Linked DNA regions of Homo sapiens. The protein of the gene in region 2 interacts with the protein of the main gene of each other region in a biochemical or structural test. Each region holds a gene or a part of one and is shown on either strand. Other genes may lie near its edges.

The links.
Region 1: the proteins of MAPK8 (region 2) and MAPK8IP3 form a complex in vitro, tested with the Homo sapiens proteins (3 studies listed by BioGRID, with this or other methods).
Region 3: the proteins of MAPK8 (region 2) and DUSP10 form a complex in vitro, tested with the Homo sapiens proteins (2 studies listed by BioGRID, with this or other methods).

What each region holds. Positions count from the first base shown.
Region 1 is NC_000016.10:1,703,949-1,707,699, forward strand, and holds the start of MAPK8IP3 (C-Jun-amino-terminal kinase-interacting protein 3), read left to right. Parts: upstream 1-2,246; 5' UTR 2,247-2,391; coding exon 2,392-2,709; intron 2,710-3,751.
Region 2 is NC_000010.11:48,400,639-48,404,389, reverse strand, and holds part of MAPK8 (mitogen-activated protein kinase 8), read right to left. Parts: intron 2,779-3,751; 5' UTR 2,730-2,778; coding exon 2,608-2,729; intron 1-2,607. UniProt on the Homo sapiens protein: Serine/threonine-protein kinase involved in various processes such as cell proliferation, differentiation, migration, transformation and programmed cell death.
Region 3 is NC_000001.11:221,735,470-221,739,220, reverse strand, and holds part of DUSP10 (dual specificity protein phosphatase 10), read left to right. Parts: coding exon 1-287; intron 288-1,954; coding exon of another isoform or gene 1,955-1,998; exon of another isoform or gene 1,999-2,090; coding exon of another isoform or gene 2,091-2,137; exon of another isoform or gene 2,138-3,751. UniProt on the Homo sapiens protein: Protein phosphatase involved in the inactivation of MAP kinases. Has a specificity for the MAPK11/MAPK12/MAPK13/MAPK14 subfamily. It preferably dephosphorylates p38.

The DNA.
Region 1 (3,751 bases), on a different chromosome or scaffold from region 2:
AGGCTGAGGCAGGAGAATGGCTTGAACACGGGGGGCGGAAGTAACAGTGAGCTGAGATGGTGCCACTGCACTCCAGCCTGGGCCACAGACTGAGACTCCATCTCAGGAAAAAAAAAAAAAGAAAAGAAAAGAAATGGAGATTTGGCAAAATTAAGTCACTTGGGATCCCAGGAAATTGGAATCTGAGGCTGAATGAAACCTCTTAGTGGGATGGTTGAACATGTATACGGCAAATTATGTTGCAAGTGGAAAATGTGAAAAACACAATAGAGCCTGGCATGGTGGCTCACACCTGTCATCTAAGCACTTTGGGAGGCCAAGGGGGAGGATCGCTTGAGGCCAGGAGTTCAAGACCAGCCAGAGTAACAGTGAGACCTCTGTCTCTACAAAAATGTTTTTAAAATTGGCCAAGCAGTGGTGGCTTACACCTGTAGACCCAACTACTTAGGAGGCTGAGGTGGGATCACTTGAGCCTAAGAGTTCAAGTGAGCCCTGATCATGCCAGTGCCTCCAGCCTGAGCAACAGGGTGAGACCCTGCCTCTAAAAACTGAACAACAAAAAAAATCAGTAGGGTGTCAGCTACGGGAGTTACTGTTTCGGTGCAATCAGATTAGGATGAGAGGATCTGAACTGATGAGCATTGCAGTAGGTGAAAGACGGTAAGTGGCCATTTCTATTAGCATTAAATAGTCACTGATGTGGTTTCATCAGGATTCACAATACATGTGTGGCTCCCAAATTGAGTTTCAAAGTCTTGGGTTCATGGTGTCCCCTGCCCAGCAAAATAAAGTGCAAATCTTACGGAGCAACACATTTTAAGTTCAGGCCTCAAGTACTTCCAGAGACAAAAGTCCTGGGGACACTGGCTCAGAATGGGGGAAAGGGGACCCTGGGCCAAGAGTCAACCAGGATGACATGCAGAATCAGACCTGCAAGGGCTGCAGATACTGTAGTTATGAGGCACACCCAACGCTTAAAGATAAATATGTGGTTGGAAGTATAAGAGCCTATTAAAACTGCTAGAATATAAGAAATCAAATAGGACAAAAACAGAATCATTGGCAGGGTGCAGTGGCTCACGCCTGTAATCCCAGCACTTTGGGACGCCGAGGGAGGCGGGTGGATCACTTGAGGTCAGCAGTTCAAGACCAGCCTGGCCAACATGGTGAAACCCCGTCTCTACTAAAAATACAAAAAAATGAGCCGGGCGTTAATAGCGCGTGTCTGTAGTCCCAGCTACTCAGGAGGCTGAGGCAGGAGAATCGCTTGGACCCAGGAGGCGAAGGTTGCAGTGAGCCGAGATCGCGCCATCACACTCCAGCCTGGGCGACAAGAGCGAAACACCGTCTCAAAAAAAAAAAAATCGGTGCAATTAATAACCCAGTGGATGGGTTAAACAGATTGCACGTAGCTGAAAAGTAACCGAAAATCTGGACTGGCGCGGTGGCTCACGCCTGTCATCCCAGCACTCTGGGAGGTCGAGGCGGGCGGATCACTTGAGATCAGAAATTTGAGACCAGCCTGGCCAACATGGCGAAACCCCGTCTCTACTAAAAATACAAAATTAGCTGGTCTGTAATCCCAGCTACTCCGGAGGCTGAGGGAGAAGAATCACTTGAACCCAGAAGGCGGAGCTTGCAGTGAGCCAGGATCGCGCCACCGCACTCCAGCCTGGGCGACAGAGCAAGACTCCATCTCAAAAAAAAAAAAAAAAAAGAAAATCTGAAGCAGTCAGTGCAGTAGGGAGAAGTGGGCGAAAGGAAGGAGGCCACGCTGCTGGGTTTCAGGATGAGATGGGCGTTGAGGGTGCATTCACAGAATCCCGGGAGGAGCCAGCTGAGCGGGGAAGGCATCAGGAGAGGGGAGGCACTGAGCGGGGCGCGGTGCTGTAGGGAACGGAGGCTCATCAGGGCGGCCGGGATTGAGGCGCAGGCGCTGAGCCTTCACCTAAGTCCGCCGAAGTGTGCAGAGCCTGGAGACGGGATCGAGGTCACCGGAAGCCCACGGTTGCGGGGACATGATCAAGCTACAGCGCGCTGGGGGAAGCGACCACTGCCGCCCCGCGGATCCCACCGGCCTGGCCGGGAGCTCCCTCTGCCCGGCTCACCCGCGCTTCCGGCCCGAAGCCCGGCTTCCTCTGACGTCACGGCCCCTGCGCCCCCTGGCGGCGCGGCTGCGGCGGGACGCGCGGGCACCGCCCCCTCCGGCTGGAGGGCGGGACTTCCGGTGAGTGAGTGACGGGCGCAGCCTCGGCAGCGGCGGCGGCGGAGCCCTGAGGCGACAGCAGCTGCGGGAGGCGACGGGCTGCGGCCTGCGGAACCTGAGGCAGCTGGGGAGGGCCGGGCGCGCCGGCCGGATAGCGAGCCGCGCTGGCGGCGGCGGTGGCCGCGATGATGGAGATCCAGATGGACGAGGGCGGCGGCGTGGTGGTGTACCAGGACGACTACTGCTCCGGCTCGGTGATGTCGGAGCGGGTGTCGGGCCTGGCGGGCTCCATCTACCGCGAGTTCGAGCGCCTCATCCACTGCTACGACGAGGAGGTGGTCAAGGAGCTCATGCCGCTGGTGGTGAACGTGCTGGAGAACCTAGACTCGGTGCTCAGCGAGAACCAGGAGCACGAGGTGGAGCTGGAGCTGCTGCGCGAGGACAACGAGCAGCTGCTCACCCAGTACGAGCGTGAGAAGGCGCTGCGCAGGCAGGCGGAGGAGGTGCGTGGGCCGCGGGACCCGCCCGCATCCCCGTCCCGGACCCCCAGCCAGCCCCGGGCCCCGGACCCAACACCCGTCCCGACCCCAGACCCCGCTCCGGCACCCCGGACCGCGGGACCCCTGGACCCCCAGACCCCGCCCCGAGACCCGCCTGGACCCCATATCCCCCGCCCCGGGACTTCCCCACCCCCTCTGCCCGCCGTGAGACACCTCCCTAGAGCACTCCCCCGCCTGCCCCGGGACCCCACCCCGACTCCCGGGGACCCCCTTTTCCGCCCAGGCCTGGGCCCTGGCCCCCTCCTCCGTGCCCCCAGCCCTGAATCTTCAGCCCCAAACCCGATGTGCCTGGCGTCATCCCCGGGGAGCTCAGCTTCAAAGCCAGGCCTCACTCTCCCCTCCCCACCCACCTCTGCATGACAATTGCCTTTGCTTTCGTGCGTGTGTTCAGTCAAAACCGTTTCCCGACCCCAAGTGCTACCTCTGTTGGCTGCCATTCTAAACCCATCTAGAAAAGGAATCTTTTGGTGTTCTTAGGGGGCTGCAGCCGTCTGTGGATGATGTTGGAGACCTTTCCCTTGTCCCTAATCCCGTATTTTGAAGGTCTGTGACACGGGTGAATTGGGTGGTTGATGTAAACACAGAACAAGGCCGCAGGCGGGCTGCTCCTCTGTCAGCAGAAGGAACACTCGAGTTTCTGGAGGTGATGTCTTTGCCCCCTTGGTTCCTTGCTTGGCGAGATTGTTAGCTGATGTAGCCAGGGCTGAGAAACTCCACTCTGGCTTCTGAGGAGTTAACAGTCTGAGTTTGAAGCGTTTAATTCTGTGCTAGGATGTCTCCATAACCTGGAAATCGCTTGTCTGTGAAGCAGTTACAAGAGCCGGGCCCTGTGGGGAGCACCACTTAGCTTCATTCATTCACCGTCAGATACTGAGCTCGGCCTGCCTGTGTGTGGGCCCAGAACCTCGCCCTTTGTCAGAAACAGGTTCAGGGAGGCTGGTTCCCATCCCTGCTTTGCCTCTGTGACCTTGGCCTGTCGCCTGCC
Region 2 (3,751 bases):
GGTCAGGAGATCGAGACCATCCTGGCCAACACAGTGAAACTCCGCCTCTACTAAAATACAAAAAAATTAGCTGGGTGTGATGGTGCACACCTGTAGTCCCAGCTACTTGAGAGGCTAAGGCAAGGGAATCACTTGAACCTGGGAGGCGGAAGTTGCAGTGAGCCAAGATCGCACCACCGCACTCCAGCCTGGTAGACTCCCTCAAAAAAAAAAAAAGCATATAAATTCTACTCAAAAGATTTGCTGAATAATTCTATGTAAACACATTACTTCTATCCTTTTGGACACAATAAAATAAATACAGAAGGGCCAGGCGCAGTGGCTCACGCCTGTAATCCCAGCACTTTGGGAGGCCGAGGCGGGTAGATCACGAGATCAGGAGATCGAGACCATCCCGGCTAACATGGTGAAACCCTGTCTCTACTAAAAATACACACACACACACACACACACACACACACACACACACACAAATTAGCCGGGCGTGGTGGCAGGCACCTGTAGCCCCAGCTACTCCGGAGGCTGAGGCGGGAGAATGGCGTGAACCCGGGAGGCGGAGCTTGCAGTGAGCCAAGATCACGCCACTGCACTCTAGCCTGGGCGACAGAGTGAGACTCTGTCTCAAAAAAAAACAAAAAAACAAAAAAACAAAAAACAAAAAACAAAATCTGAACAGAGAGCTGGCTTTCAGAATCCTAATACTGACTATATAATATGATTTTCTTTAAATTTAATTTATGGTTGGTTAAATGTGGTTGGTTACAATGAGAACAGGCCAGTCAAAACGGCTTACAAAATGACTCCAACTTCTATAATTTTTGATATTGTAAATTACTTCAAGAATGCAGGAAAGATAATAAATGCCATTCTATTATGCAAATTTATTAAATCTTAATACGTTACCATAATTGCTCTGATTTTTTTTTTTTTTTTAGACGGAGTCTCACTCTATCACCCAGGCTGGAGTGCAGTGACACCATCTCAGCTCACCACAACCTCCACCTCCCGGGTTCAAGCTATTCTCCTGCCTCCGCCTCCCAAGTAGCTGGGATTACAGGCATGTGCCACCATGCCCAGCTAATTTTTGTATTTTGAGTACAGACAGGGTTTCACCATGTTGGCCAGGCTGGTCTTGAACTCCTGACCTCATGATCCACCCACCTCGGCCTCCCAAAGTGCGGGGATTATAGGCGTGAGCCACCGCGCCCGGCTTGCTCTGAATTTTTTAGAAAGAAATATAATATTATAGGTCAAACCTCCTTTCTTTTCTCTATTTTCTCAGAGATAAACAACATCCTAAGTTTGGTATTTATGCATGTTTTAATCTTTTGTACATATATATAATCCATAAATATATGGTACTGCTTTGCATATTTTAAGCTACATGTAAATGGTATAATGATGTATATATATATTCTACATCTTGCTTTGAAGCCCAGCACTACATTTCTGAGGTTATCCTTGTTGACACATATGGCTCCAGTTCGTTTAAAATGTTATATAGTATTTCACAGCATGACTGTATCACAATTTTTTATTCTTCTGTTGATAGATTTGATGCTATTTCCAATTTTTGCTGTTATAAATGGTGCTGCAAACACCAATCCTATGCATGACTCCCTGTGCACATGTAAAACAGTTTTTTTAGAACCTAGGAGAAATACTGGATTATAAATACTTAACAGTTTACATTTTGTTTAGAATAGATTCTGAAATTTGTTTCAAGAAGAGGTAATAAAAATATAATTATTCTTGAGTGAGGCTTATAATTCCCCAAAACACTAGTTTATTATTATGCTAATTTAGTGATCTGCAATCAGTATCAGAACTATCCCAAAGAGTGATCTGCATTTCAGTTTATAAAGAATTATGCTGATATAGCCTGAGGCTTTTGTAGAAATTAGCTAATAAATCAATTTTAAACATATGGATGAATTTTGAAACACACACAGTGAGATATTAGCTGACTTCATTCCCCAGTATAGAATAAGATTTCTGAAATTCCACGCTTCATTATAGTGTGAAAGTGATGACTAAGTGAAGCTTCTTATTAAACAATTATCTATGGGAATACATGTATACATGAAATTAACAAGCATGCCACTTATTCTTTGCTGATAGAGATATTTGTCTTCAATGGCTATGCCCAAGTATTTAATCATAGTTTATACTTAAAGATGGCAGTGCTAGTTTATAGAGTTGTATCTTATGAATAATACAGGTTATTATCCCAAATCTGAAAATATGAAATCTAAAATGCTCGAGAATCTAAATTTTGGGGGCACTGACATGATGCTCAAAGGAAATGTTCACTGAAGTATTTCTGATTTGAATTTGGAATGCTCAACCAATGCAAATATTCCAAAATCTGACACTTCTGGTCCTAAGCATTTCAGATAAGGGATACTCAACCTTTAATAATAATAATAAAGAAAAGACCATTGATCCTGAAGCAAACAATTTACTGTGGAATAGTTTTCGTTTAATTTTTAGTTTTAATTTAATTTTTCAAAGCAAGTTAAATATTTGCCAAGGTATCTAAATTACGAGAGGAGAAAAGGTAGCAGTTAATGATTCTTTGCCTAATTTTTGGAAGTAAACACTTACCATACTATTCCTTGAGCTCCTGAGCCTATAGGTTTTAAATTCTGATATCGTTTCAGGACTGTGAATGTAGAATCTCCAATCTCTACACTATAAAAATTGTTGTCACGCTTGCTTCTGCTCATGATGGCAAGCAATTAATTTAATGGCTTCATCCAAAAATTCACCAAGAAGCTGCAAGATGCAACAAAACATGATGTTAACAAAATGAACTTGTTTTAATCTTAAAATTTGAGTCCTTACTGTTTACGTACTGATAGTAACACAGACTGCTAGATCATGAAAAGAGCTGCTTCATTAAAAAACATAAGAAAAAAAATACCGCAGAGCCTTGATTAGCATATGCCATATGAATGACTGATAGTTTTTTTTAAAAAAGAAACATTAGGATAAATCATTCCTCCAATCTAGAAGTTACCAGTATTAATACATTAATAACTTACAAGACGAACAAAAGAAAGCAAATAATTAAAATTAAACATGTTTTTACGTCACTCCACAGTTTAAAATTTAAAACCAGTCTTTCTCATGTGCTTATTATAGAGAATAAAAACCTTAATTTTTGTAAGAAATTTATAAACTTTGATTCAAAAATGGTTAAGTCTCATTTAGTGCCAAGTGGAGGGAACAACAAATGGAAATAAGTTGACTAGCATGTGTCATCCTTGCCTAAAAAACAAAGGGTACCACAGTGCCTTCACTGTGACAGATCCTCTGACCTGCCAAGGCAACCTCCTGGTGTAACACACATACTGAGACTGTAATGGGTGAAAGGATGAGAAGCAAAACAGAAAGGAGAGAGAGAGAAGTAGTTAGGCATATTGGGATACAAAACAAAACAATACTATTCTATCCTGCCTGAGGCATTAAAAGTACGATTCAACTTCTGACTACCATTCCTTTACTACTTGTAGGATTAAAAATCAAGACACTTTTTTTCTACCCATGTGAATACTGGTTATTAACAAACTTATCCATCCTTACTAGACAAAAGAGACTATTCCAAAATGTATGCAAAGCAGCTTTAACCTATTCCTCGCCTCCTCAATAAGTCATGAAACCAATTAGGTCTAAAGTTATTGTTTTTTGTGGTTTTAAGATAATGCTAACCCCCAAGAAATCCTGATATGACTTACAATACAAAGAA
Region 3 (3,751 bases), on a different chromosome or scaffold from region 2:
TGACTGCAGGCCCTTCATGGAGTACAACAAGAGTCACATCCAAGGAGCTGTCCACATTAACTGTGCCGATAAGATCAGCCGGCGGAGACTGCAGCAGGGCAAGATCACTGTCCTAGACTTGATTTCCTGTAGGGAAGGCAAGGACTCTTTCAAGAGGATCTTTTCCAAAGAAATTATAGTTTATGATGAGAATACCAATGAACCAAGCCGAGTGATGCCCTCCCAGCCACTTCACATAGTCCTCGAGTCCCTGAAGAGAGAAGGCAAAGAACCTCTGGTGTTGAAAGGTAATGCCCCTGCTCCCTTCCCAAGCACGGTCCTGATTAGCCGGGTTCACTTTGGGTTTTCTCGTAGAGTGACAGCATTCTCCTTACCCTGGCTACCAAAGACCAAAATAGACTTTATTCTTCTCTTCCCTTCTATGCTCTTTATTGTTTTGGTTTAGTAAGAAAAACCCAGCAGCACTGAACTGGAAGCCAGAAGATCTGGGTTCTACCCTTCATTTGGGTTCTAATTTGCATTGTGCAAGTCATTTCACCTCTCTGGGACTGTTTTCTCATCTTTCTAAAAAGGGGCTTTATACACACCAGATGGTATCTCAAGTCATGCCTGGTCTGCTAGCTCTATTCCAATCAATCACTAGTTGGAAAGTTATTGTCTCTCAGACTTAACCAATGTTGATGGAACAGAGGAAGGAGCAACTATGGTGAACTACAAGTAAACCTACAGGTACCAGTTCTTACTGTGGGAAATTCTTTCTCTTTCTCACCTTTCTGACCAGCTTGACTTTTATGTGGTTTATAAAGTGACCTTGAAGAAGGGCAGAGCTTCTTATTCTAAGGCCCCATATAAAGTATAAGTTCACCAATTACATCCATTCCTCTGCCAAGGCTCCAAGGGAACAGAGACGTTTTTATGAAACACTCCCCAACCCATTGTTTTTTCTGGCCTCACCTGACAACGGTTGGCATCATGGCTCCTCCCAAGATGGAGTAATGGGTCACTTGCCCCAGTATACTGAATGCAGAATAACTGAGATTAGCAGAACTGAGCTCTGGCAGAAGGAATTATTCACCACTCTTCTCGGAGCACCTTCCATACCGTGTTGCCTAACCTTTCCAAGTAGCCTGCATCCTGTGCCCAGCCTAGTTGCACCTCTTTGCCCTCAGATACTGACTTTTGGGGCACTGTACATCACTCTCATTCGGCATCTTTTACCTGGTGGTGGTAGTGAGAGATAGTCGTCTTCTCTCTTCTCTCCTCTTGTGTTCTGAGCCAAGGTACGCAGTTTCTGGGTCACATCTCCAACCAGTCTCCTAAAGTGTGTTGACCAAAGGTGTTGCTGAGTTTGAACACATTGCATATTTAAATTGCAATAGGACATGTGGGTGAGCAAGTTAGTTATTTTGTCTCTATGGGACAGCTTTGCCATTCTCCTTCTTGTCTTCCCAGTGGGGCATTCTGCCTTTTGTTAAGCAGTGTTCTGGGAATTATAGTTCTGAATTCCACTGACACAATCTCCTCTTCCCACCCTCCGCTCTCCTCAAACTTGCCCTCATGGGGCTACACTACCACAAAGGCACATCTCTCCTTAGGGCTGGTGGGCTTTGCTGGGAAGGAGAACATGAAAGAATTGTATGTAGAGAGTTCCAGAAGCTTCTAGACATTTCCTGGTCGTGGTGGTTGTGGTGGGTTTTCTTGAGGTCACAAATATGTTCAGATTTCCTCCATATAGCTCTGTATTTTATTGTTTCTGTATTCTTGTATGGTTGACTTTGAGTGATTCCCAGGATATTTACCCTGCTATTGTCTTACCATAATCTTGATGTGTCTAGCCTCTTACAAATGAGAAAATCCTACCGAGGAATTTCCCATTTGTAATAGTTTGTCTTGGGGAGCAAAGAGGAGGATAGCCAATGATCATGATGATCTCCTCTTTTCTCACGCAGAGCAGGTGTTCATGATAAAAAGCAAGTCTTTTGTGTCTTCATGATCTGAAGAGAGGAAACAACACGGATCAAGATGATCCTAGACCTCCTAATCATGGGGATGATTACAAGGAGTTGCAGACCCTACTCTCTATTTTGCAGTGGGTGGAGTTGTGGATAGGGGTGACCCATCAGTCATTGAGAAATGAATCTCCTGGGTGCTACTTGTGAAAGTGAGGATCCTCTCTCCCTTTCCTGTGGATGCAGCTGAGATTCTGGACAGCCTAGACTTCTTCCTCAGTGTCAGAGTAAGATTGCCTCAATGGGGCGGGGCAGGACACACTGCTGACCTCACCACTGGGCGCCCTGGGCAGCCACTGCGAGGCCTCGTCATTTTCGAGTTGGTGAGACACCGCGGCAGTCGACTTGGAAGATGCTCTGGTGGTAGAGGTTAGATTATTTGTAGTTTTGGGGGCCTTTTCTTCAAATATCTGGGAATTTCATTGAAAATATGTAGTTCAGGAGTGAAGGGGTCTATATTCTACTTTATAATTATCATTATCATTTTGGTATCTTTTGGGAGAATGGCCTAAAATTGGGACCAAGATGGAAAAGAAGGGAAAGGAATGGGTCAATATTAGAATGCCCTTCGTTATCCTTTCAACTTGGTAAACCAGAGATTAATACCATAGCACCACTGTGGTGAAAGACGGGGTGGGCATTCCCCAAAGGCATGACCAGCAGACTTCTCTCAGATTCTTGAGTGGGTCAAGCAGACCATTCTGGTCTGGCTTCTCCTCTCAGATTTATTTGAGTAATCCCCTCCCTTGGTGATAAGATTGTGTTTCAGCAAGAGTGGTAGTGGTACCATTTCGGAAGGAGTAATTTTTGCAGGGAAGTTGGTGGGAGGGGGGCATAGTTAGAACATAAGGAGGAAACTTCTAAAGGCTTGTTAGTTTATTTTCAGAGATTTCAGTACAATCTTGGGTAATTTATGGCTGGCCCATCTGATGCTCTGGTTTATGTTTGTAAACACTGGTTGCTACCCTCCCTGTCCAAGATCCTTGTCCCCCTGTCTCCATGCCATACTCTCCATTTTTGGTGCTGTCTGTCAAGTAGAGCGGCTGCTAACTTGCCATTTTAGTAATGCTGTGTCAGGTTGGGAAGAAACCGATCAGAGGCATGGCAGCCCCTGGGATTAAGTTACTGTTCTAATTTACAGTGCCCTCCCTGTTGTGACCTATGCTAGAATCTATGTTTTAGTCTCATCTTCTAAAGAATAAATGGCATCAGACCTGTGCTTCTCTTCAACCTGGTGAAAATGATCCAAATGAATAAATATTTAGGGATTTGTGAGGTCTTTGAAAGAATTATATTGTTTTACTCAAAGCTGATTTTTAATCAACTAAAACTTGCTTTCTAGTCAAACTGAGTAAGAAAGTTGAACAATTCTAGACCATCCATAACGAGAGCTACCGTTTTTGCTATAAAGTTTTTCAGGCTCCCTTTCTTTTCAGTAAAGCTGGGTCCAGGGAAATAATTTGTCATTTACTTAGGTAGGAAGAAATAGTCTACTGCCCCTTTTTCTTAAAGACAGTATATGCCTTCAAAAATGTTATTATAAACATTTTCAAGCATATAGAAAAGCAGAAAAGTGTGTAATGAACATCCATACACCTATCAACCAGATTAAACAATTATATTTTTCCTATTTGCTTTCTCTTTTCTGTTGAAATATTTAAAAATATAGATAATGTTTTAATGTATTTAAGTATGTTTAATGTGTAAATTAATGTTTCAAATTCAATAAAGCTGGAAATATT